Linked DNA regions of Homo sapiens. The protein of the gene in region 1 interacts with the protein of each later gene in a pairwise test. Each region holds a gene or a part of one and is shown on either strand. Other genes may lie near its edges. The genes, in order: TPH1, DNAJC12 and ZMYM6.

What was found.
Region 2: the proteins of TPH1 (region 1) and DNAJC12 interact in binary tests that used the Homo sapiens proteins (3 or more experiments, as listed by UniProt).
Region 3: the proteins of TPH1 (region 1) and ZMYM6 interact in binary tests that used the Homo sapiens proteins (3 or more experiments, as listed by UniProt).

The regions. Positions count from the first base shown.
Region 1 is NC_000011.10:18,042,842-18,051,316, reverse strand, and holds the start of TPH1 (tryptophan 5-hydroxylase 1), read left to right. Parts: upstream 1-5,047; 5' UTR 5,048-5,076; intron 5,077-8,475. UniProt on the Homo sapiens protein: Oxidizes L-tryptophan to 5-hydroxy-l-tryptophan in the rate-determining step of serotonin biosynthesis.
Region 2 is NC_000010.11:67,835,189-67,844,019, forward strand, and holds the start of DNAJC12 (dnaJ homolog subfamily C member 12), read right to left. Parts: upstream 3,001-8,831; 5' UTR 2,824-3,000; coding exon 2,746-2,823; intron 1-2,745. UniProt on the Homo sapiens protein: Probable co-chaperone that participates in the proper folding of biopterin-dependent aromatic amino acid hydroxylases, which include phenylalanine-4-hydroxylase (PAH), tyrosine 3-monooxygenase (TH) and peripheral and neuronal tryptophan hydroxylases (TPH1 and TPH2).
Region 3 is NC_000001.11:35,021,228-35,029,304, reverse strand, and holds part of ZMYM6 (zinc finger MYM-type protein 6), read left to right. Parts: intron 1-8,077. UniProt on the Homo sapiens protein: Plays a role in the regulation of cell morphology and cytoskeletal organization.

The DNA.
Region 1 (8,475 bases):
GGAATCATAGGACATGCAACCTTTATTTCTGGCTTCTTTCACGTTATGTAATGTTTTCCAGGTCCATCCATGTTGCAGCATGTATCAATGTTTCATTATTTTTATAAGGAAGAATACTATTCAATTGTATGTGTATACCACAGATTGTTTACCTCACTTATCCGTTGATGGACATTTGGATTATTTCCATCTTTTGGCTGCTGTGGATAGTGCTGCTGTGAACATTCTCATACAAGGATTTGTTCAAGTTCCTCTTTTCAGTCTTTTGTGTGCATACCTAGGAGTGGAAGTGCCAGGTCATATGTTAATTCTGTGTTTAACTTTTTGAGGAACCAACAAAATTTTTCCCACAGTGGCTGAGCCATTTTATCTTCCGACCAGCAAGATAGGATCCAATTTCTCCCAGTTCTCACCAACACCTATTCTTTTCCTAAGTTTACTTTAGAACATGTGAAGATGCCAATGTATCATGTATACAAGGTAAATTATTGGATATAAAGGTCTAGAGTTCAGAAGGGAGATCTGAGTTTGAAACACACATTTTGGAGTTGTTCGCATAACAAGGGTACAGGAAAGGAGGTGCAATTGACGAGGAAGAGGGTATAGACTGGAAAGAGAAGAGGGCCCAAATCCTCACCCAGCCAGAGGAACCCTGAATACCTGGAGGGAAGAGAAAGAGGAACTCCTAAATGAAGATGGAAGAGGATCAATCCAAAGGTTCCACCAAATGAGAAACTGAGAGGTTGGAATGTGTCCCCTCTCAAATATGTTCTGCTGGAGATCTGGGGAGTGCAGCGAGGTGTCCTTTACCATCAGTGCAGTGAGCACTTTCAGTTTCTCAAAAGCCCCATCTCCAGGTCAGAGAACTCCTTCACCATAGGTTCCACAGATTAAAATGATAGGACACACTTAAGGAGAAAGACCATTTCCCATCTAAATACTGCCCAAAGTGTCTAGTTTCAGTGCCTCTCTGTGGTAGGCAAAATAATGGCATCCCCAAATTGTCCATGTCCTAATGTCTAGAAACCATGACTATGTTATCTAACATGAGAAGAGATTTTGCAAATGTGATGAATGGTTTTGAGATGGGGGATCATCCCAGATTATCTGGGTAGGCAGAATGGAAGCACAGGGTCTTTGTCACTGAAAGGAGACAAAGACTTAGATTACAAGATGCCACATTGCTTGCTTTGAAGATGGACAAAGGGGTCATGAACCAAAGAATGCAGTGACCTCTAGAAGCTGGAAAAAGCGAGGGGACAGATTCTCCCCTGAAGCCTGCAGCAGGTACCCAGCCCTGATGACATCTTGATTTGTAAGTGTCAACTACTAAGGCCTTTCCACCTCAGGGCCAGCATCCAACCTATTCTCTTGACCTCCTTGTGGATGTGCTCATTAAATGAGTTGGTGCCATCTCTCTTCTTCATCAGGGGTGGTTTAAGCCCTCCTGTAGTCCCAACTTTAGGAAAGACATCTTTTTTCTATTTTTAAATTTATTTTTATTTATAATTTTTGTGGGCATGTAGTAGGTGTATGTACTTATGGGATACATGAGATATTTTGGTAGAGGCATGCAATGTGTAATAAACACATCATTGAAAATTGGGTATCCATTCCCTCAAGCATTTATTCTTTGTGTTACAAACAATCCTATTATATTCTTTTAGTTATTTTTAAATGTGTAATTAAATTATTATTGACTATAGTCCTCCTGTTGTTCTATCAAATACTAAGCCTTTTTCATTTTTTCTGTTTTTTGGTCCCCATTAGCCATCCCCCACAACCCCCCATTCCCTGTACCTCCCACTACCCTTCCCAGCCTCTGGTAACCATCCTTCTATTCTCTGTCTCCATGAGTTTAGTTGTTCTGATTTTTAGATCCTACAAATAAGTGAGAACATGCGATGTTTGTCTCTGTGCCTGGCTTATTTCACTTAACATAATGATCTCCATTTCCATCCATGTTGTTGCAAATGACAGAATCTCATTCTTTTTTATGGCTGAATGGTACTCCATTGTGTGTAAGTACCACATTTTCTTTAACCATTCGTCTGTTGATGAACACAGGTTGTTTTCAAATCTTGACTATTGTGAACAGTGCTGCAACAAACATGAGAGTGCAGATATCTCTTCAATACGCTGATTTCCTTCCTTTGGGTATATACCCAGCAGTGGGAGTGCTGGATCATATGGTAGCTCTATTTTCAGTTTTTTGAGGCACGTCCAAACTGTTCTTCATAGTGGTCGTACTAATTTATTATACATTCCCACCAACAGTGTACAAGGGTTCCCTTTTCTCCACATCCTCTCTAGTATTTGTTATTGCCTGACCAGGGTGAGATGACATGTTATTGTAGTTTTGATTTGCATTTATCTGATGACCAAGGATGTTGAGCACCTTTTCATATGTCTATTTGCCATTTGTATGTCTTCTTTGGAGAAATGTCTATTCAAATCTTTTGACCATTTTTAATTGGATTATTAAATTTTTTCCTATAGAGCTGTTTGAACTCCTTATATATTCTGGTTATTAATCCCTTGTCAGATGGGTACTTTGCAAATATTTTCTCCCATTCTGTGAGTTGTCTCTTCTCTTTGTCAATTGTTTCCTTTGCTGTACAGAAGTTTTTTAACTTGATGTGATCCCATGCAATCATTTTTCCTTTGGTTGCCTGTGCTTGTGGGGTATCACTCAAGACATTTTTGAGTAGACTGATGTCCTGGAGTGTTTCCCCAATGTTTTCTTGCAGTGGTTTCATAGTATGAGGTCTTAGATTTGAGTCTTTAATCCATTTTGATTTGATTTTTATATATGGTGAGAGATAGGGGTCTAGTTTCATTCTTCTGATGGATATCCAGTTTTCCCAGCAGCATTTATTGGAGAGACTGTCCTTTCCCCATTGTATGTTCTTGGCAACTTTGTCAATAATGAGTTCACTGTAGGTGTGTGGATCCGTTTCTGGGTTCTCTATTTTGTTCCATTGGTCTATGTGTCTGTTTTTATGCCAGAACCATGCTGTTTTGGTTACTGTAGCTCTGCAGTATAATTTGAAGTCAGGTAATGTGATTCCTCCAGTTTTGTGCTTTTTGCTCAGGATAGCTTTGGCTGTTCTGGGTCTTTTGTGATTCCATATAAATTTTAGGGTTGTTTTTTCTATTTCTGTAAGGAAAGTCTTTGGTATTTTGATAGGGATTGCCTTGAATCTGTAGATTGCTTTGGGTAGCATGGACATTTGAACAATAAGGATTCTTCCGATCCATGAACTTGGAATAGCCTTCTGTTCTTTTGGTGTCCTCTTTAATTTCTTTCATGAGTATTTTATAGTTTTCATTGTAGAGATCTTTCACTCCTTTGGTTAATTCCTAGGTACTTATTTTATTTGTGGCTATTGTAAATGGGATTAATTTCTTTTTCATACTGTTCACCATTGGCATACAGAAACGCTATTGATTTTTGTATGTTGATTTTGTATCCTGCAACATTAGTGAATTATTTAATCAGTTCAAATAGTTTTTTGGTGGAGTCTTTAGGTTTTTCCAAATATAGGATCATATCATCTGCAAACAAGGATAATTTGACTTCTTCCTTTCCAGTTTGGATGCCCTTTATTTCTTCTCTTGTCTGATTGCTCTAGCTAGAACTTCCAGTACTATGTTGAATAATAGTGGTGAAATTGGGCATCCTTATCGTGTTCCAGATCTACAAGGAAAGGCTTTCAGTTTAGGAAAGACATCTTTGACCTCAGCTTGGTTCTGAAAGGTCTCTCCCTGACCAGTATTTTTTATGGCATTGAAGTAAGAGCACTGGATTTAAACTCAGACACTTTTGCTTGATTATTGATGGTACTTACTAGCCTGTGCCAGAATAACGTCTTAGAGCCACCCCTGTGCTTCAATTTCCGTATCTGTAAAATACAAATAATATGTACCTCATAGAAGCATTATACAGATAAAAGAAAAATGCATAGAAAAGCTGTAAAGATCCTGAGCTTTAAAGTACATCCATACTCAGCAAAAAAGAAAACAGGAAAGAAAAGGAACAAATCACTAATACCTGCATGAAACTCAAAAGCATTATGTTAAGTGCCAGGAGCCAAAAATCTGTACATATTTCATGATTTCATTTCTGTGACATTCCAGAGAAGGCAAAACTGTGGAGACAGAAATCAGATCAGTGGCTGCCAGGGGCTGGGTGTGAGGTGAGAGACTTTAGACAAGGGAAATTTCTCGCAGTGATAGAAATGTTCTATATTTTGATCGTTTGGTGGTTACACAACTATACATGTTTGTCAAAACTCAGAATTGTACACCTCACAGGGTGAATATTACTGTATGTTAATTATACATCAATAAATCTTACTTTTCAAACATTGGAGGAAAGAATGTCCTATAATATACTTCGTTATGTGTACAGTCCTTTGGGATAAGGAGCTAATCGACTGACTACTCAACCAGTAAATACCTATTCCAAATTTTTTGCCTCTATGTCCTGTTGTTCACAATAGCACGTAATATGATTTTTTGCTAATATAGAATGCTTCTCTGCTTGCAGCTTAAAATTTTTTTTTAATTAGAAGGGCACTGAACACTTCTCTTCTAAAAAGTTCAACTAACTGTTGCTCTGCCTCAAGGAATGGGGGAAAGCACCAAGAGAATAATAAGTCAGGACTGGGCTATTAAATAGCCCAGAAGCACAGAGAGGTGTGGGAGGTGGGGGGATTCTTGCTTTGGTCTCCAACAGGCGAGAAGCACTGCAGTCCTATAGCAGGTCATTGTGTCGATAATAGGCGTTATCTTGGTTTGGAGAGAATGTCCAACTCTGGATTGTTCAGTGTTAGTCAGACTTGTGTGGTTAAGGACGGCCTAACATTCACTTAATTAAAACACCAGTCAGATACACGCAGAGATTGAGGCGTGCAAGTCTCTGGGAGCAGGCGGACGCGACTGCCCACGCCCCACACCCGCCGGCCCTCCCTTCTCATTGGCCGCTGCCCAGCTGCTCCGACGCCCGCTTCTATAAGAGACAGGCAGCGCGGGGCCGCCGGCCGACCCAGCCTGCACCTACTGGCGCCCGAGGTGAGTGAGGCGGCCCTTCCCGCGGGCACCGGGGACCGCCGTCGAGGCTTTGGCGGCGCTTGGCAGGCGCGGGGCTGGGCAGAGTCACCCTCCCGGGAGGTAAATTGGTGGTCTTGCGGAGTCAGATTTGGGAGGTCGGAGTTGTACCCCTATAAACGCTTACTATTCTTTCCTCCCACGCTGTTTGGGGAGAAAAGACACTTTCTGAGTGCCTCCTGTGTGCCAGGAACAGACTCTTTAGCCATCATGAGATTTCACCTTCATGACAAACTCTGGTAGATATTTCTTGAGTCCCCAGATGAGGAAAGTGGGGTCCAGAGTCCAACCCAAGTCTGTGTGACTCCTCTATGTTGGCAGAAACAGTAAGATTTTTCTTCCTTCCCTTCCTCTCCATCAAAGGGCAATGTCTCTTTTTTTCTTCTCCTCCCATGAAGGGAAGCTTCCCTTAAACAGCCTCCCGAAGAAGAAGGAGTCTCAGATGCAAAGCTTCTCAGCATCGCACTTACCATCATCACCACCATCCCAACAGACGACTGAGAGCTTTTTGCAAGGTCGCAATTGACAAAGAGGACTAGGTCCTTGCGGTTTAGAGTCAGTTAAGAGTCCGTGTGAACTCAACCTTGCCTTTGGCGTTTGATTTTCAGAGGTTTAAAATGAACTTCTCATTGATGTCCCACTCTACTTGACTTAGCAGGAAAAAGACTAGAGTTGAACTTGCTAACCCAGGAAAAGTTTGTGCCTGTTAGTTAAAAAAAAAAGGGGGGGGTGGAATTCTAATATCAATGTTTCTGTAAAGTTATAATCTGTGGTTTACATATGTTATCACTGAGGTCCATTTGTACATGTATTATTAGATTATCTCCAGATAGGGATGTGTCTTCTATTTCCATTTTCTCTGCCAGTGCCTTTATTTCCTAGAATACTGTTTTTCATGGATAGTGTTTTCTTTTGTATTTCATCTACACTTTCATCCTCATTCCCACTCCTTATTTAGAAAAGAAAATCAAGACTCCGTAGAGGATTCCCTCCCTCTGAAAGAATCCTCCTTGCAGTTTTTAGTTCTGTCTTCAAACAATATCCATGCTTTCAAAAGACTAATTCAGTAGTGCTTTGTGCTTCCTAGATCCGGTAAATATAAATTACACTTGTTTTACTGATTAAACTAAGGGAAGAAAAGAGTTGGTCATTGTATACGCCTTGACCTCTCCCAAGGGTCGGGTCTGTTGATCTTCTGAGTGTCTTCTTGGTATTTTTTCCTTATTTCCAGTGGTATGTCCTACACAGTGCATCCTTAGGCCAGGAGACGCAGTAGGAAAATGACTCTACCTTTCATGAGAAAAGGGTACCAGTTGGTATTAGCTGATCAGAGAGTTGCTTTAAAAATAAAATGCTTATGTATTGATGAGACACTGATTCAAACAAGTGTGACCTATTTTATCTTACCAGGTTAGTATTGTGTTTTTTTGTTTTGTTTTGTTTTGTTTTGTTTTCCTGAAAGAGTAGGAGGAGGTGGGTAGGTTGAAAGGGGAAAGGAAAAAGTAACAAGGCAAAATATTGAGGTTCTGAAAGCGGTTTGGGGTTAACTGGAGGAAAAAATAACTGATGCCTCATAAGCTCTGTCAACCAAGCAAAGTTATGGCCAAGTTTTAGTAACGATCAAAGATCTATGTCCTGTAAGATTATTTTGGGGTGGGGGGGAACAAAAAAGAGGGTGAGAATTTTCTTCTAGTTTTCTAGTTTCTTAGCAAAAGTTCCTTTTGAGAACCTTCATTTTTACCATGACTTAAACAAGGAGGAGTGTTTCCACATCTTTTTTTTTGAGACGCAGTCTTGCTCTGTCACCTGGGCTGGAGTGCAGTGGCGTGATCCTGGCTCACTGCAACCTCCGCCTCCCAGGTTCAAGCCATTCTCCTACCTCAGCCTCCCAAGTAGCTGGGACTACAGGCGCCCGCCACCACACCCAGCCAATTTTTGTATTTTTAGTAGAGACGGGGTTTCACCATGTTGGCCAGGATGGTCTCGCTCTCTTGACCTCATGATTCGCCCGCCTCGGCCTCCTAAAGTGCTGGGAATTACAGGTGTGAGCCACTTACATCTTAATATAATAATGTATGTCTTTAAATACATCAAAATAATATAAATGCCTTGCATATCATAAATTTCAATTAATGTATCCTTCACCCTCCTCTCCCCACACCAACTAAGGAGATGTTGGCACAAAACTTGATCCATTCCAGAATCAGGTAAAGAAAATAATTATGAACCCTAAAGGGATGGAGCCATGACTGTTAGCACCTTCTCACAATAGCAACTTCCAGGAAAGCTTAGGGACCAGTTTTGAAAATTGAAGGAAATTCTCTTTTTTTTTTTTTTAAGAGACAGGGTTTCACTCTGTCACCCAGGCTGGACTGCAGTGGCGCGATCATGGATCACTGCAGCCTAGAACTCCTGAGCTCAAGCAAGCCTCCTGCCTCAGCCTCCCTAGTAGCTGGGACTGCAGGTGAAAGCCACTATGCCCAGCTAACTTAAACAATTTTTTTTGTTGTTGTTGTTCATACAGCATCTCACTATGTTACCCAGGCTCTTCATAATAGTTTTTGTTGTTGTTGTTGTTTGTTTGTTTTTGTTTTTGTTTTTTGAGACGGAGTCTCACTCTACTGCCCTGCCAGAGTGCAGCGACACGATCTTGCTCCCTGCAACCTCTGCCTCCTGAGTTCAAACGATTTTCATGCCTCAGCCTCCCGAGTAGCTGGGATTACATGCATGTGTCATCATGCCAGGCTAATTTTTGTATTTTTAGTAGAGACGGGGTTTCACCATGTTGGCCAGGCTGGTCTTCAACTCCTGACCTCAAGTGATCCACCCACTTTGGCTTTCCAATGTGCTGGGATTACAGGCATGAGCCGCAGCAGCTGGCCTCATATAGTTTTATATGAAGAGTTTTATTCCAAGCTCCAAGAGGTTGTTGAAAGACAAATTATCAGGAGATCTAGAATTCTGTTAGTGTTACCACTGACTGGAAAAAATCAGTGGTAACTTTTCTTTACTGTTCTCTGATCCTTGCTCCCAGTTCTTAAAGCTGATTTACATGATGAAGCTAGTGGTTGGCCAGGAAATAGCTTATATTTGCAGAATCCTCTTCCTTCTGCATGTCATGGTGATGGTATCAGGAAACATGAGGACTCAGTAACTATAGGGTAACTCAGTACATTTTACTTTGGGGTCTTTGTCTATTTGTTTGCAAAAAAACTGCTGAATTATTTTCTTGAGATTTGGAATTTAATACACTTTAGGGGTTTTATAATAAATTAATGAAACTGAAATCACCTTGATACAAAACAATACTGACATTTTATATCATAAAGCAACTTTTCCACATGTTTGCTATTGTAAGAAATA
Region 2 (8,831 bases), on another chromosome or scaffold:
GTGATAAGTAAAATTAGAATATCAAATTGTTTTGAAATTATAACAGCTAAAATGCTTTCGGGCATGATGAGTTCTGGTTAATTTTAGAGCATCAAATGAAGGAATACCTGAAGTAAAGGCAATCTATCCAATACAAATCAAGTAAAGGAAATGTCATATTAGTCAAAAATGTCATAAAAATATTTTTGAAATGAGAAGCATACCTATAAAAAGAAGAGAAAAGCCAGGTGCGGTGGCTCACGTCTGTAATCCCAGTATTTTAGGAGGCCGAGGTAGGCAGATCACGAGGTCAAGAGATGAAGACCATCCTGGCCAACACGGTGAAACCCCGTCTCTACTAAAAATACAAAAATTAGCTAGGCATGGTGGCATGTGCCTGTAGTCCCAGCTACTCAGGAAGCTGAGGAAGGAGAATCACTTGAACCTGGGAGGCGGAGGTTGCAGTGACCTGAGATTGCACCACTGCACTCCAGCCCGGCAACAGAGTGAGACTCCATCTCAAAAAAACAAAAAAAAGAGAGAAAAAATGACACACACACACACACACACACACACACACATATATATAAAGAAGTGACAATATTATGACAAACATTTCATTAAAAATAAATAATTGTTATCTAGATATGATATGCCATTGACAGACCAGTAAAATACATCCAGTAAAAGGAATGTTGAGACAAGGAAGTATGACTCCACCTGGTAACCATATTTTGAATATTACACATTAACAACGAGATTATTTTCTGTAAGGCTGTCCAAAATGAATCCTCCTTCTATGTAGATTGAAAAGACAACAGCATAACTTCAAAAGACTGACTATGCAGCCATAAAAAAGAATGAGTTCATGTCCTTTGCAGGGACATGGATGAAGCTGGAAACCATCATTCTCAGCAAACTAACACAGGAACAGAAAACCAAACACCACATGTTCTCACTCATAAGTGGGAGATGAACAATGAGAGCACATGGACACAGGCAGGGGAACATCACACACCGGGGCCTGTCGGGGGGTGGGGGAGAAGGGGAGGGACAGCATTAGGACAAATACCTAATGTATGCGGGGCTTAAAACCTAGATGATGGGTTGATAGGTGCAGCAAACCACCCTGGCACATGTGTATCTATGTAACAAACCTGCACATTCTGCACAGGGATCCCAGAACTTAAAGTAAAATTGAAAAAAAAAAAAAAGGACTGACTAAATAGGTCACAAGATTATGGAGATATAATGACCCTTACTGTATAAGCTAGCATGTATTTTTTTAAATCCAAATTGTCAGCCTTATCAAGTTAAATTATATTCCTTTGATTTTAAATTATTCCTTCAAAAATTGTTTGATAATAGTATAATTTCAACTGTGAATAACACATGGTAAAAATGGTAATAAGCTTTCTCAATTGCTATAAGCAAATCACCACCAACATAAACAAGAATAACACATTCTTGAGAAGAAATATGCAACTAAAAGACCATTATAAGCTATTCTGGGGGCGGGGCAGTTTTTTTAATTTCAACGTGTCTAAGATAACTTCCTCAGCATGGCAAAAATAGAGATTTTAATCCTTTGTGTCCAGTAATGCATTCTATTCTTAAAACAAAACTAAGCACATTTTATTAATGAACTACTGCCTTTATGAAACAACAATAAATATAAAAACATTTTGCTTTACAATGTTAATTTTACTACTTAGATTTTAATAAAAATAAATAAAATAAAATACATTAATTATAAAACATAAATATATCCTAATAACATGATTTAATAATATATAATTTAATAATGAATATATTTTATATTAATCTCAACATTATTTGAAATATTGAAAAATTGGAAATAAAATATTTAACAATAAGAGAATAATTCAACTGTGGTAACACAGCAAAATAAAATATTTTGCAACCACTAAAAAGTGTACAAGGAAAGTTTAATAGCATGGAAAATTCCTTGTTATAATACGAATGGGTAAAAAGCAGGAATCAACAAGTACATATAATATCCTCCCAAACAGGTCTTTAAAGAATATACATAGAAAGAATAGTGGAGATTAATATGCCAAAATATTAATACTGTTATCCTTGGGAGAGAGAATTATAAATGATTTTTCCATAATTTAAAAAACCTCTACAACCTTTATAATTGTTTATTGAGAACTTTAAAAATTTTGTTTTCTTACAGATCCAGTGAACAGCTACAGAGTTTTCACATGTTTTGTTTCAGAAGCCACCCTTTCAAGAAGTAATTTCTGTCACACAATTTGAAATATTAACATAAAGGGATGCTTCTTTGTTTCTATTTTGACTGCTCACATAGGAGTACACATTTTAATAAAATATATTAAAATCCCTAATTTTATAAGAAATTTCATTTCACCTCAATTATGAGTCACCATAATAAAGGTATAGCTTATATATACTGTGAAACACTGCCATCAGAAATTACAATAAAATTTCAAATATTTATTTTTAATATACTATATTGTGAAACAGCATATGGCCATGTGCCAGAATACACATATTTAATCAGAAGCTTCCGTAAAATTCCCATAGGACACTATTCAAGTAAAATCCCAACATACATTTAAATTCTTAACTTTCTCTGAGCCAAAAGTGCTTTAAAACAACACAAGGTTAGGTTTGTAGGCAATGTGACTAAAAATTCAAAGTTAAAACCTTAAATAAAAACTTGAAATACTATTGTGAAAAAGAATACTGTTGTGATAAAAATATTATCCACTGTCTTACCGAAGATAGTTCATCACATCCCAGTAATGTGTAGTAATCTTCAGTATCTTCTGACCTGTAATTCAGTATTGCATCCATTTAGATGACTTAATCAGTCCTTCTTCCCTCGGAAACAAGAGGCACAGTGAGCTTCGAATTAACAGGAAGAAACTCTTTAAATCTGAATTAGAGCAGCATGTTCCACATAGCAAAAACTAGCTTTAAGACTGGCCACAGTCAATACACCAGATGTCATCCTAGACCTTTGTAAACTCTGCCTCTCATTGGCTGTTTACAGAGAAGAAAAGAACAGTCCACGTGTCTATTATTGCAGTGCTGCCTGGGATCTGTAGTTTGAGTTTATATAAGAGATGCATGTGAACCATTTGTCTTATGAGTTAATAAAGACTGTCTATTTTCAGAAACTTGCCACATTAGCCACTTCTCCATCTCCTATATATTTTTGTCTCTATCCTTTAAAAAAAAAAAAGAAAAAAAATGTGAAGCAATGTGGTAAAATCTTAGGATGTGTTAATAAGGATAATGGGAGCTTTTCTTAGTGTTTAAAATACTTAATTTTATTTTTTATTTGTTTATTTTCAGACAAGGTCTCACTCTGTTGCCCAGGCTGGAGTGCAGTGGTGCAGTCTCAGCTCACTGCAACCTCTGTCTCCCCAGCTCAAGCGATCCTCCCACCTCAGCCTCCCTAGTAGCTGGGACCACAGGCACATAGCACCATGTCCAGCTAATTTTTGGTTTTTGTTTTGTTATGTTTTAAGAGGAGGGGGTTTTGCCATGTTGCCCAGCCTGGTCTCGAACTCGTGAGCTCAAAGCGATCTGCCTGCTTCGGCCTCCCAACGTGCTGGGATTACAGGCATGATCCACAGCGCCCAGCCAATAACACAGTCTTGATTTTTATGGAGCTTACGCTCTGATGGAGGAAGACAGCTGAAAAACATGCAAAAAAAAAAAAAAAAAAAAAAAACACGATCATTTAAAATAGTGATTTGTAAGCCAGGCATGGTGGCCCACACCTGTAGTCCAGCTACTTGGGAGGCTGAGGCAGAAGAATCACTTGGACCCAGGAGGCAGAGGCTGTAGTGAGCCGAGATGGTGCCACTGCACTCCAGACTGCGCTACAGAGCAAGACTCCATCTCAAAAAATAAAAAAATAAAATAGTGATTTGTGCTTTAGAGAAAATAAAATAGGACAATGAGAAGAACTGTATGATAACTCGGGTCAGATGGCTGTGCTATTTCTCCTGGGTTGGTTCTCCAGACTCAGGAGTGTCTCTAGTCTGAGGTAGGTCCAGGCAATTTATGTTTCAGTTCATTTTGGCCCTAAGAAACACAGTTCAGGTCTGGGATTTAGAGAACAAGGTGAGTGGTCAGGGACACAACACTTTGACTGCCTTAACACTTTTTTTGTTTCATTTTTCAGAGAGACAGGGTCTCGCCATATTGCCCAGATTGGTCTTAAACCCCTGGACTCAAGTGATCCTCCCACTTTGGCCTCCCAAAGTGCTGCGATTACAGATGTGAGCCAACATGCCTGGCCCTTAACACTTTAAATTCCCCCACCTGAGGGGAAAAAATAGTTTTTCTTTTAGCCCACCTATATACATCTTTTTAAAGGTTTATTTCTGAAGAGAAGCAAGAAAAAGCACTGAAACACCATTTTTTACTAATCCTTCATTGTACATGCTGTCTTGCTAAAAGTTCTATATAGAATTTTAAGGCCAGGCACGGTGGCTCATGCCATAATCCCAGCACTGGGAGACCGAGGCGGGCGGATCACGAGGTCGGGGGTTCGAGACCAGCCTGACCAATGTGATGAAATCCTGTCTCTACTAAAAATACAAAAATTAGCCAAGCATGGTGGCACGCACCTGTAGTCCCAGCTACTCAGGATGCTGAGGCAGGAGAATTGCTTGAATCTGGGAGGCGGAGGTTGCAGCGAGCCGAGATCGTGCCACTGGACTCCAGCCTGGGTGACAGAGCCAGGGTCCATCTCAAAAAAAAAAAAAAAAATTAGATCACAATATCTTGATCTAAATCACTGATAAATGGCCTTTTAATGATGTGAAGTTGCCATGGTGGAAAGCAGTATGGTGGTTCCTCAAAAAATTAAACATAGAACTACCATGTGACCCCACAATTCCACTTCTGGGTAAATACACAAAAGAATTGAAAGCAGGAACTTGAAAAGATATTTATATACTCATGTTCATCAAGGCATTAGTCATAATAGCCAAAAAGTGGAGGCAATGCAAGTGTCCATCAACGGATGACTAAACAAATGGAATGTTAGGGCTGGGCATGGTGGCTCACACCTGTAATCCCAGAACTTTGGGAGGCCGAGGCAGGCAGATCACTTGAGGCCAGGAGTTCGAAACCAGCCTGGCCAACATGGCAAAACTTCATCTCTACTGAAAATACAAAAAAGTTAGCTGGGTGTGGTGGCACATGCCTGTAATTTCAGCTACTTGGGAGGCTGAGGCACGAGAATTGCTTGAACCCAGGAGGTGGAGGCTGCAATGAGCTGAGATCACACCACTGCACTCCAGCCTGGGTGACAGAGCACGACCTTGTCTAACACAAACAAACAAAAAAGTGTGGTATTGGCCAGTTGCAGTGGCTTATGCCTGTAATCCCAGCACTTTGAGAGACCAAGGCAGGAGGATTGTTTGAGCCCAGGAGTTCAAAACCAGCCTGCGCAACATAGTGAGACTCTGTCCTTATTTTTATATTAATAATATAATTTTTTTTTTGAGACAGAGTTTCACTCTTGTTGCCCAGGCTGGAGTGCAATGGTGTGATCTTGGCTCACCGCAACCTCCACCTGGGTTCAAGTGATTCTCCTGCCTCAGCCTCCTGAGTAGCTGGGATTACAGGCATGTGCCACCATGCCCGACTAATTTTGAATTTTTAGTAGAGATGGGGTTTCTCCATGTTGGTCAGGCTGGTTTCAAATTCCAGACTTCAGGTGATCCACCCGCCGTGGCCTCCCAAAGTGCTGGGATTAGAGGGGTGAGCCACTGTACCCGGCTTAAAAGTTTTTAAAGTGTGTGGTATCTTCCCCCTGGCTCTCTTACTCCTGTTCTCACCATGTAACATGTCTACTCCCACTTCACCTTCTGCCATAAGTAAAAGCTCCCTGAAGCCTACCCAGAAGCTGAACGGATGCTGGCTCCATGCTTCCACATTCTGCAGAACTGTGAGCCAATTAAACGTCTTTTCAGTATAAATTACCAAGTCTTAGGTATTCCTTCATAGCAATGCAAGAATGGCCTGACACAAAAAATTGGTACCAAAGAGTGGGGCCTTGCTATAAAGATACCTGACAAAGTGGGAGCAGCTTTGAAACTGGGTAATGGGCAGAGGCTGGAAGACTTTGGAGGGCTCACAAGAAGACAGGAAGATGAGGGAAAGTTTGGAACTCCTGCAAGACTGGTTAAATGGTTGTGACCAAAATGCTGACGGTGATATGGACAGTGAAGTCCAGGCTAATGAGGTCTCAGATGGAAATGAGGAACTTATTGAGAACTGGAATAAAGGTCACTCTTGTTATGCCTTACCAAGGAACAAAGCTATATGGTATTCATGCCCTAGGAATCTGTGGAAGTTTGAACTTAAGAGTGATGACTTAGGGTATCTGGCAGAAGAAATTTCTAGGCAGCAAAGTGTTCAAGAAGTGACCTGGCTGCTTCTAACAGCCTATCCTCAGATGCAGAAGCAAAGAAATGACTTAAAGTTGGAACTTATATTTAAAGGGAAAGCAGAATGTAAAAGTTTGGAAAATTTGCAACCTAGCCATGTGGTAGAAAACAAAAACCCATTTTCAGGGCAAGAATCTAAGCAGACTGCAGAGCAACCACTTGCTAAAGAGATTTGCATAAATGAAAGGGAGCCAGGTCAGAGGCTGATAGACAAGACAATGAGAAAAAAACCTCAAAGGCATTTCAGAGATCTAAGAGGCAGCCCCTCTCATCACAGGCCTAGAGGCCCAGGAGAAAAGAATGATTTAGGGGGCCAGGCTCAGGGTGCTGCTGCCCTGTACCACTATGGGAGGCTGCTTCCTGCATCCAGCCACTTCAGCCCCAGCCTCAGCTCAAAGGGGCCCAGGTACAGCTCAGGCCACAGCTCAGAAGGGTGCAGGCTGTAAGCCTTGGGTGGCTTCCATGTGGTGTTAAGCCTGCAGGTGTTCAGAATGCAAGAGTGAAGGAGGTTTGGCAGCTTCCTCCTAGATTTCAGAGAATATATAAGAAAGCCTGGGTACCCAAGAAGAAGCCTACCACAGGGACAGAGCCCTCACCAAGAGCCTCTACTAGGGCAGTGCAGAGGGGAAATGGGAGGTTGGAACTTTAACATAGTTTGGAAAGTCTCCCTGCCTGAATCTCATGTTGAATTGTAATCCTCAGTATTGGAGGTAAGGCCTGGTGGGAAGTGATCAGATCATGGGACTGGATTTCTCATGAATGGTTGAGCACCATCCTCTTGATGCTGTCCTCACAAAAATGAGTGACTTCTCTGAGATCTGGCTGTTCAAAAGTGTGTATCACTTCACTCTCTGTCTCTCTTGCTCCTGCTCCCACCATAGGAGATGCCTGCTCCCCCTTCACCTTCTGCTGTGATTGCAAGCTTCCTGAGGTATCCCCAAAAGCAGATGCCTGTGTTATGCTCCCTGTGCAGCCTGCAGAACCATAAGCCAATTAAATCTCTTTTCTTTATAAATTACCCAGTCCCAGGTATGTCTTTTCTTTTCTTTTCTTTTTTTTGAGACAGAGTCTCACTCTGTCGCCCATGCTGGAGTGCAATGGCACAATGTCAGCTCACTGCAACCTCTGCCTCCTGGGTTCGAGCAATTCTCTGCCTCAGCCTCCTGAGTAGCTGGGATTACAGGCGCCTGCCACCACACCTGGCTAATTTTTTGTATTTTTTAGTAGAGATGGGATTTCACCATCTTGGCCAGGCTGGTCTTGAACTCCTGACCTCGTGATCCACCCACCTTGGCCTCCCAAAGTGCTGGACTACAGGCATGAGCCACTGCACCCGGACTTAGGTATTTCTTTTTTCTTTTTTTTTTTTTTTGTGATGGAGTCTTGCTCTGTCACCCAGACTGGAGTGCGACGGCGCAGTCTTGGCTCACTGCAACCTCCACCCCCCGGGTTCAAGCGATTCTTCTGCCTCAGCCTCTCAAGTAGCTGGGACTACAGGCACAAGCAACCATGCCCAGCTAATTTTTGTATTTTTAGTAGGGACAAGGTTTCACCATACTGACCAGTCTGGTTTCAAACTCCTGACCTTGTGATCCGCCTGCCTCAGCCTCCCAAAGTGCTGGGATTACAGACATGAGCCACTGCACCTGGCCAGGTATTTCTTTATAAAAATGTGGGAATGGCCTAATACAAACTCCCACACAGAGTCCCCACTGGGGCACTGCCTAGTGAAGCTGTGGGAATAGGGCCCCCACCTTCCCGGCCCAGAGTGGTAGATCCACTGGCAGCTCACACCCTGCACCTGGAAAAGTCACAGAGTCACAGGCACTCAACTCCAACCCAGGAGAGCAGCCTGCAAAGCCACAAGGGCAGGGCTGCCCAAGGGATTGGGAGCCCACCCCTCACAGCAGTGTGCCAAGGACGTGAGACATGGAGTCAAGAATTATTTTGGATCTTTAAGATTTAATGAATGTCCTGCTGGGTTTCAGGCTTGCTTGGGACTTGTTGCTCCTTTCTTTTTTTTCCTTTTTTTTTTTTGAGGTGGAGTCTTGCTCTGTTGCCCAGACTGAAGTACAGTGGCACAATCTCGGCTCGCTGCAACCTGCACCTCCCAGGTTCAAGCTATTCCCCTGCCTCATCCTCCCTGAGTAGCTGGGATTACAGGCATGTGCCATCACACCCGGCTAATTTTTGTATTTTTAGTAGAGACGGGGTTTCACCATGTTGGCCAGGCTGGTTTCCAACTCCTGACGTCAGGTGATCCACCCTCCTCAGCCTCCCAAGGTGCTGGGATTACAAGCATGAGCCACAGCACCCGGCATGTTGCTCCTTTCTTTTAGCTGATTTCTTCCTTTTGGAAAGGGAATGTTTGCCCAATGCCTGTATCTC
Region 3 (8,077 bases), on another chromosome or scaffold:
TTCTCTATGATAAGGCTGTATATATAGTTTAAGGCTGGATTATGTAGGACGTAGCAGACCTTGTTATAAATTTTGGTTTTTATCCTAAGAGCAGTAGATAGCCATTATAGGGTTTTTTGTTTTTGTTTTGAGATGGAGTTTTGCTGCAATGTTGTAATCTTGGTGGCTCACTGCAACTTTCACATCCCGGGTTCAAGTGATTCTCCTGCCTCAGCCTCCCCAGTAGCTGGGATTATAGGCGCCTGCCACCACGCCTGGCTAATTTTTTGTATTTTTAGTAGAGACGGGGTTTCACCATGTTGGCTAGGCTGGTTTCAAACTCCTGACCTCAGGTGATCCACCCACCTCAGCCTCCCAAAGTGCTAGGATTACAGGCGTGAGCCACCACACCTGGCCAATTGTAGGGTTTTAAGTGAGAAAGTAAGATGAAACAGATTTGTGTTTGGAAAGATCATTCTGGCTACCCCATAGGGACCCAGAATGGAGAGCACGGAAATCAATGTGGAGGCTGGGCACAGTGGCTCACGTCTGTAATCCTAGCACTTTGGGAGGCCAAGGCAGGCAGATCACGAGGTCAGGAGATCGAGACCATCCTGGCTAACACGGTGAAACCCCGTCTCTACAAAAAATACAAAAAATTAGCTGGGCGTGGTGGTGGGCGCCTGTAGTCCCAGCTACTTGGGAGGCTGAGGCAGGAGAATGGCGTGAACCCAGGAGGCGGAGCTTGCAGTGAGCCAAGATTGCGCCACTGCACTCTAGCCTGGGTGACAGAGTGAGACTCCGTCTCAAAAAAAAATAAAATAAAATCAATGGGAGAGATGAGTTAGTTGTTTTGGCAAGGAATTTTTCTTCTGGGACAGTTCTTTCGCTTTACACTCAAAGTTATTGACTTTATTGTATCAGCAAAGCAATTATATTTTAAAATAATAAAAAACAATTTTATTTTTCACACCATCTCACAGGCAGTATCATTCCTTTTTTTTTTTTGAGATGGAGTCTTGCTCTGTCACTCCCAGGCTGGAGTGCAGTGGCGCGATCTTGGCTCACTGCAACCTCCGCCTCCCAGGTTCAAGCGATTCTCCTGCCTCAGCCTCCTGAGTAGCTGGGATTACAGGTGTGCGCCACCACGCCTGGCTAATTTTTTATATTTTTGTTAGAGACTGGGTTTCGCCATGTTGGCCAGATTGGTCTCAAAACTCCTGACCTCAAGTGCTCTGCCCACCTCGGCTTCTCAAAGTGCTGGGATTATGGTTGTAAGCCACCATGCCCAGCCACAGGCAGTATCATAAGAAGACAGGGATGTCAGGTAGGTTTTGTTTCACTCATGAACTCTATGCCTTGCTAGAGTGCTGGGCTAAGAAGAGTTCTGAGGTAGTGTCTGTTAGATGTGGAGTGGGGGATGGTGGCATCCATGCTACTTGTTTTCCCTCCAGATGGTAAATTCTTACTCTTTCTCTGCCTAAAGTAACCATTTCTTTGCCAGGTTTTGTGGTTTTTAGCTTTTAAATATTTTTTGTATCTGACCCATGATGTTCTTCTATATTTCATTATTTCTCTCTCTCTTTTTTTTGTTTCCTTTTTTTGAGACAGGGTCTCACTTTGTTGCCCATACTGGAGTGCAGTGGTGTGAGTATGGCCACTGCACTCTAAACGATCCTCCCATCTCAGCCTCCCAGGTAGCTGACCACAAACATGCTCCACCACACCCAGCTAGTTTTTGTAGAGACGGGGTCTCCTTATGTTGCCCAGGCTGGTCCTGAACTCCTGACCTCAAGCAATCCTCCTGCCTTGGCCTCCCAAAGTGCTGGGATTACAGGCATGAGCCATCATGCCTGAACTATTTCATTATTTTTCATTTGGACTTTTATAATAGTTTCCTACCTATTCTCCTTCCTTCAGTCACATATCCCATCAAAACACTCTACAGTGATGCCATTGTACTGTATAGATCGAGTGATATTTCTCCCTTTAAAGACCCTGTTTCCTCCAGTGTGATGAAGCAAAGATCTTTCAATGTGACATCCAAACCATCCATGTTTAGGCCTTTGTTTCCCTCTCCAGTGTCATCATTCATTGTTTCCACCTTTTCAAATCTATGCTGCTGCCAGCTATTTGCAGTTCACTCAAAACTATCTTCTAAAACTCGGTTGCATTTTATTTCCCTGCCTTTGCACCTGCCATTTCTTGTGCCGGTGGAAGAAGAAATAAGCTAGGTAGGCTGGCAAAATTTTGTCCTCTTTTAAGATGAAGTTTCTCACTCACAAGTAGAATGAGCTGTTCTCTCTCTCTTTTTTTTAATTGTATAGTGCAATCACTTTTATTATGGTATCTACAGGTCAATGAATTTTGTCTTCATACTGATTATACTAATCTGGCCATCTCCTCCTCATCTTTCATTGACACACTAGACTGCAGTCTCTCTGAAGTCAGAAATTGGTCTTATTGACCTGAATCTCCAATTCCTAGCACAGGATTTGGCACAAAGTACATGTTCAATAATTGGAATAAAAGAGCCTCTTTCACATATAAGGAAGCTGAACCTGAAGGAATAAGTGACTTCACCAGTGTCTCATGGTAAAACTGGGATACAACAGTTTGTTGTTACTCCAGATGCAATATTTCTTTCATTATACCTTGCCTATACACTTAACAAATAATGTGCTTTAAGTTAATTCAATGTTCTTTCTGAATATAAAAATTGTGATAATGGAAATCTCCCTAGCAGCTTAGATTGTATATTTAAGAGGGTAGGAACTGCTCAGTTGTCTTTGGTTTATATTAATGTTTTCAGGTGAATAGGCTATATTTTTTCATGATTGAGGGTATAGACTATGATTGAAAAGCCAATTGAACAAATTGTGTATTATTTTCTATGTTGCATTGATGAATCTCCTTTGAATATTGGAAAATAAGAGATAAATAAAAATGTTTTTTATTTTCTGATTTTCTAAGAGTTTGTTCTGGATATTAAAATTATAGTTGAAGGCCAGGCGCGGTGGCTTGTGCCTGTAACCCCAGCAGTTTGGGAGGCTGAGGTGGGCAGATCCCTTGAGGTCAGGAGTTCAAGACCACCCTGGCCAACCTGGTGAAACCCTGTCTCTACTAAAAATACAACAATTAGCCGGGCGCGGTGGTGGGCGCCTGTCATCCCAGCTACTCAGGAGGCTGAGGCATGAGAATCACTTGAACCTGGGAGGCGGAGGTTGCAGTGAACTGAGATTGCGCCACTGCACTCCAATCTGGACGACAAAGGGAGACTCCATCTAAAAAAAAAAAGTTGCAGTTTAGTCCTTATATTCATATATGTTGAGTATTCATATTCATTCAGTGAGTTTTTATTCCTGCCTGCTGTAATCCATAATACTTGAACATTGTTGTGAGCAGTTTACATACCTTAATCCATTCGATGCTCACAACCCTCAGTTAAGTACTGTTTCTCTTCCCACTTTACCCATGAGGAAGCTGAGTCCTAGATAGTAACCCGTTAAAAGTCACATAATTAATAAATGGTTGAGTCAGGATTTGGACTCCAGCAGTCTGATTCAAGAGCCCAAACCCTTAACCAGGATGGTAAACTGTATTAGTTACTTTGTTTTCAGAAAGGCTACAGAGATGAAAAGATAGGACTTCTGCTCTCAAGGTAATTGATAGTGTAATGGAGAGAAAAGTTATGAGAATGAGAGAAGTAATATTTGTTGAGTGACTGTGCCTTGTGAGAAGCTATGCTAAGCATATCTTATGCATTCTCATTTAAACCTAATTGTCTTCAAACTTGTATGCTTTCTGCTGCTTTGTGCCACCTTTTTTTTTTCTTTCTTTTTTTTTTTTTTTTTTTTTTGGGATGGAGTCTTGCTTTGTAGCCCAGGCTGAAGTGCAGTGGCGCCATCTCGGTTCACTGCAACCTCCACCTCCTGGGTTCACGCAGTTCTCCTGCCTCAGCCTGCCGAGTAGCTGGGATTACAGGTGCCCACCACCACACCTGGCTAATTTTTGTATTTTTAATAGAGACGGGGTTTCACCATGTTGGCCGGCTGGTCTCGAACTCTACCTGCCTCGGCCTCCCAAAGTGCTGGGGTTACAGGCGTGAGCCACCGTGCCTGGCCTGTGCCACCTTTTGTGCAAATACAAAATCAAGGCCATGAGTGGTGGCTCATACCTGTAATCCCAGCACTTTGGGAGGCCGAGGTAGGTGGCTCACTTGAGGTCAGGAGTTCAAGACCAGCCTGGCCAACACGGTGAAACCACAACTCTACTAAAAATACAAAAAAATTAGCCAGGCTTCGTGGCACATGCCTGTGATCTCAGCTACTGGGGAGGCTGAGGCAGGAGAATCACTTGAACCCAGGAGGCGGAGGCTGCAGTGAACAGAGATTGCTCCACTGCACTCCAGCCTGGGCAACAGAGCAATATTCCATCTGAAAAAAAAAAAATACAAAATCACAGTCTTAGGTAAGTGCTTTAAAATTGTGTGAGGTGCATTGGGAGCATAGGGGAAGGAGCCCTAAATCTATATGGGAAGGAGAGGAAGGTTTCACATAGCAGGTAGCAATTGTATTATAAAAATTGACTAAGAGTTTCAGACAGAGAAAATATAGCAGAGAAAATAGCCACGTCATGGAGGGGTGAGAGAATGTGGTGTGTTTAATAGTTGAGTATCAACAATAAAGTGGGAAAAGATAATAGATTTAAAAATGGTTAGGTAGGATTGATCAAATTTAGAGATTGTTTATGGGTGTGAAGGTCAAAGAGGAGTCCAAGGATACTTACAGGTTTTGGGGTTTATGGTGATACCATTTACTGAGGGGTTAGAACAGGATTTTGGAGGAAGTACTAAGTGCAGTTTGAGGTCTGTTGTGTTTAAAGGGCTTGTGGGACATTCAAGTGGTAAACTGCACAAGGAGGCATTTGCACATAAAAATCTGGGATTTGAGATTAGAAAGTTATCTACTTGGAGATGTAGGGCTTCCAGATAAAATACAGGATGCCAGGTTAAATTTGACTATCAAATAAACAATGGTGATTTTTACTATAAGTGTATTGCTTGCAATACTTGGAACATAATTATTCTAAAATAGCACTATTTCAGCTATAGCTAAAAAGAAGGTTTCCTTTTCCTGTAAGATAGCAGGACAGTTTGCTGAGCAATTTGTAGGTAAGGTGGAGGGGGCTGAGGGATGTTGAGGGAGTTCTTAGTTACTTGTTTTTACCTGGTGCAATTGAAACATCAATGAGCAGGAAAGATGTGGAGTTGGGACTCGTGAGCTATGAAGGTTTAGAAAAATTACTTTGTGAGGTAAAAGAAACTGGTCAGGGAAATATAACAGAAATACTAGAAAAATTTTAGAAATTGAGTTGATAAGGCAAAGAAATTTTTATTGAATCTGGCCGGGCGCGGTGGCTCATGCCTATAATCCCAGCACTTTGGGAGGCCGAGACGGGCAGATCACGAGGTCAGGAGATCGAGACCATCCTGGCTAACACGGTGAAACCCCGTCTCTACTAAAAATACAAAAAAATTAGCCAGGCATGGTGGTGGGCGCCTGTAGTCCCAGCTACTCCGGAGGCTGAGGCAGGAGAATGTCGTGAACCTGGGAGGCGGAGCTTGTAGTGAGCCGAGATCGTCCACTGCATTCCAGCATGGGTGACAGAGCGAGATTCTGTCTCCAAAAAAAAAAAAAAAATTTTATTGAATCTTAAACACTCATTTTGGTAATTTGAAGATGTATATAATATTTTTAATGTCCTCTTCATTTTGCAAGTGTCAATAAATATTGTTATTTAAGTATAATGTTTAAGAACATGCACTTTGGATTGAATAGACTTAGATTCCTTCATTTAGCAAGTATTTATTAAATGCCAGTTATGAAACTAATAAATAAGTATGAGAACTAGCATTTTGGCCAGGTGCAGTGGCTCACGCCTGTACTCCCAGCACTCTGGGAGGCCAAGGCGGGCAGATCACCTGAGGTCAGGAGTTCGAGACCAGCCTGACCAACATGGAGAAACCCCGTCTCTACTAAAAATACAAAATTAGCCAGGCGTGGTGGCGCATGCCTGTAATCCCAGCTACTGGGGAGGCCGAGGGAGGAGAATCGATTGAACCCTGGAGGTGGAGGTTGTGGTGAGCTGAGATCCGCCATTGCACTCCAGCCTGGGCAACAAGAGCGAAACTCCATCTCAAAAGAAAAAAAAAAAGAACTAGCATTTTGTGTACATATCGTGCTTGCTTTTGACTAACTGTAAGATGTCATTCTGTATACCTTATTTATATTAAGTCATTTGCCCCCTCCCTCCCCGTTGGCCCTATGGGTTAGGTAATATTATCTTTATTTTACAGATAAAGAAATTGAAACTAAGAAAGATTAAATAGCTTGTTTAGGAGTCAAGATCATATCTGTTTCTGTCTGCTGTTAGAACCTATAGTCATTACTGTTATGTTGACTGTGTTGGGCGATTGGGTATACAGGGGTGAGAAAAACAGGTATTGTCCATAATGGATGTGATCTTTTTAGTCTAATGTGTGTGTAGGGGGAAGGATGAATGTTAAGCATTAATCAAATTATCCAAATAAGCAATGAAATGATTTACTATGGTAACTGCTGTGAGAGAAAGGAGATGGGAGAGACTACTGCAACAGGGGAACTTAATTTCAGTTGGACCAGAGTTTGAATTCATTGTAGTAATTACTTTATATTTTCACATCTATGACAGTGCTATCTTGGGTTTTAGAACAGAGAGACTGGCTGGGTGCGGTGGCTCATGCCTGTAATCCCAGCACTTTGGGAGGTGGAGGTGGGTGGGTCACCTGAGGTCAGGAGTTCAAGACCAGCCTGACCAACATGGTGAAACTCTGTCTCTACTAAAAATACAAAAATTAGCTGGGCATGGTGGTGAGTGCCTGTAATCCCAGCTACCCAGGAGGCTGAGGATCACTTGAACCCGGGAGGGAGAGGTTGCAGTGAGCCGAGATGGCACCATTGCACTCCAGCCTGGGCTACAGAGCGAGACTCCGTCTCAAAAAGAAAAAAAAAACAAAACAGAGAGACTGGGTTTGATTCCCATCTGTGCACGTAGTCTCTTTGTGACCTTGGGCAAGTTGCTGAACATCTCTTAGCTTCACTTTCCTCATCTATAAAGAAGGCATATCTTATAGAGAGCACCTCTTTGGGTGCTCATAATACATATCATGGGAAGTGGTGAATTAATGCAATGGTTCCTAGTTTTTGGCATTTAATAGTCTAAAGAAATTTCTAAAGTAACTTTGGAACTAACATAGCTACTCATTTATTTTGCTATGTGTGGAGAGATTAAAAATACAACTGCCATTTATTACCATCATTGATTCAGAAAAGTAAGACTTTTTAAAAAACTTCCTGTTTTGAAATATGTAAGGGTATTTTAACATTAAAAAAAAGGATGGTTGCAATTTCAGAATAAAGATAGGCATTTACATTTTAAAAATGTTTCATGATTACATTTTGTTTTAAAACGTTTTAAAGAATGTGGTAAGAATAAATAGGATTTTGTCTGTGATGATTTTATGTATAATGAGCAGATTGCATTGACACTCTTGTATCTTTTCTGCCATTAACAGAAAAGGCAGCTTGTAAATCTAAAATGATTGAAATCCAAACTCTAAATCATTCAGATTTAACTTTTCTTTTTTTCTTTTTCTTTTTTTTTTTGAGGCAGAGGCTCGCTCTGTTGCCCAGGCTGGAGTGCAGTGGCACAATCTTGGCTTACTGCAGCCTCCTCCTCCCGGGTTCAAGTGATTCTCCTGCCTCAGCCTCCTGGGTAGCTGGGACTATAGGTGTGAGCCACCACGCCCAGCCAGATTTAATTTCATTTATTGCTCCTTTTTGCCGGGTGCAGTGGCTCACACCTGTAATCCCAGCACTTTGGGAGGCCAAAGTGGGCGGATCACCTGAGGTCAGGAGTTCCAGACCAGCCTGGCTAACATAGCAAAACCCCTTCTCTACTGGAAAAAAACACAAAAATTCGCCGGGTGTGGTAGCGCAAGCCTGTATTCCCAGCTACTTGGGAGGCTGAGGCAGGAGAATCGCTTGAACCTGGGTGT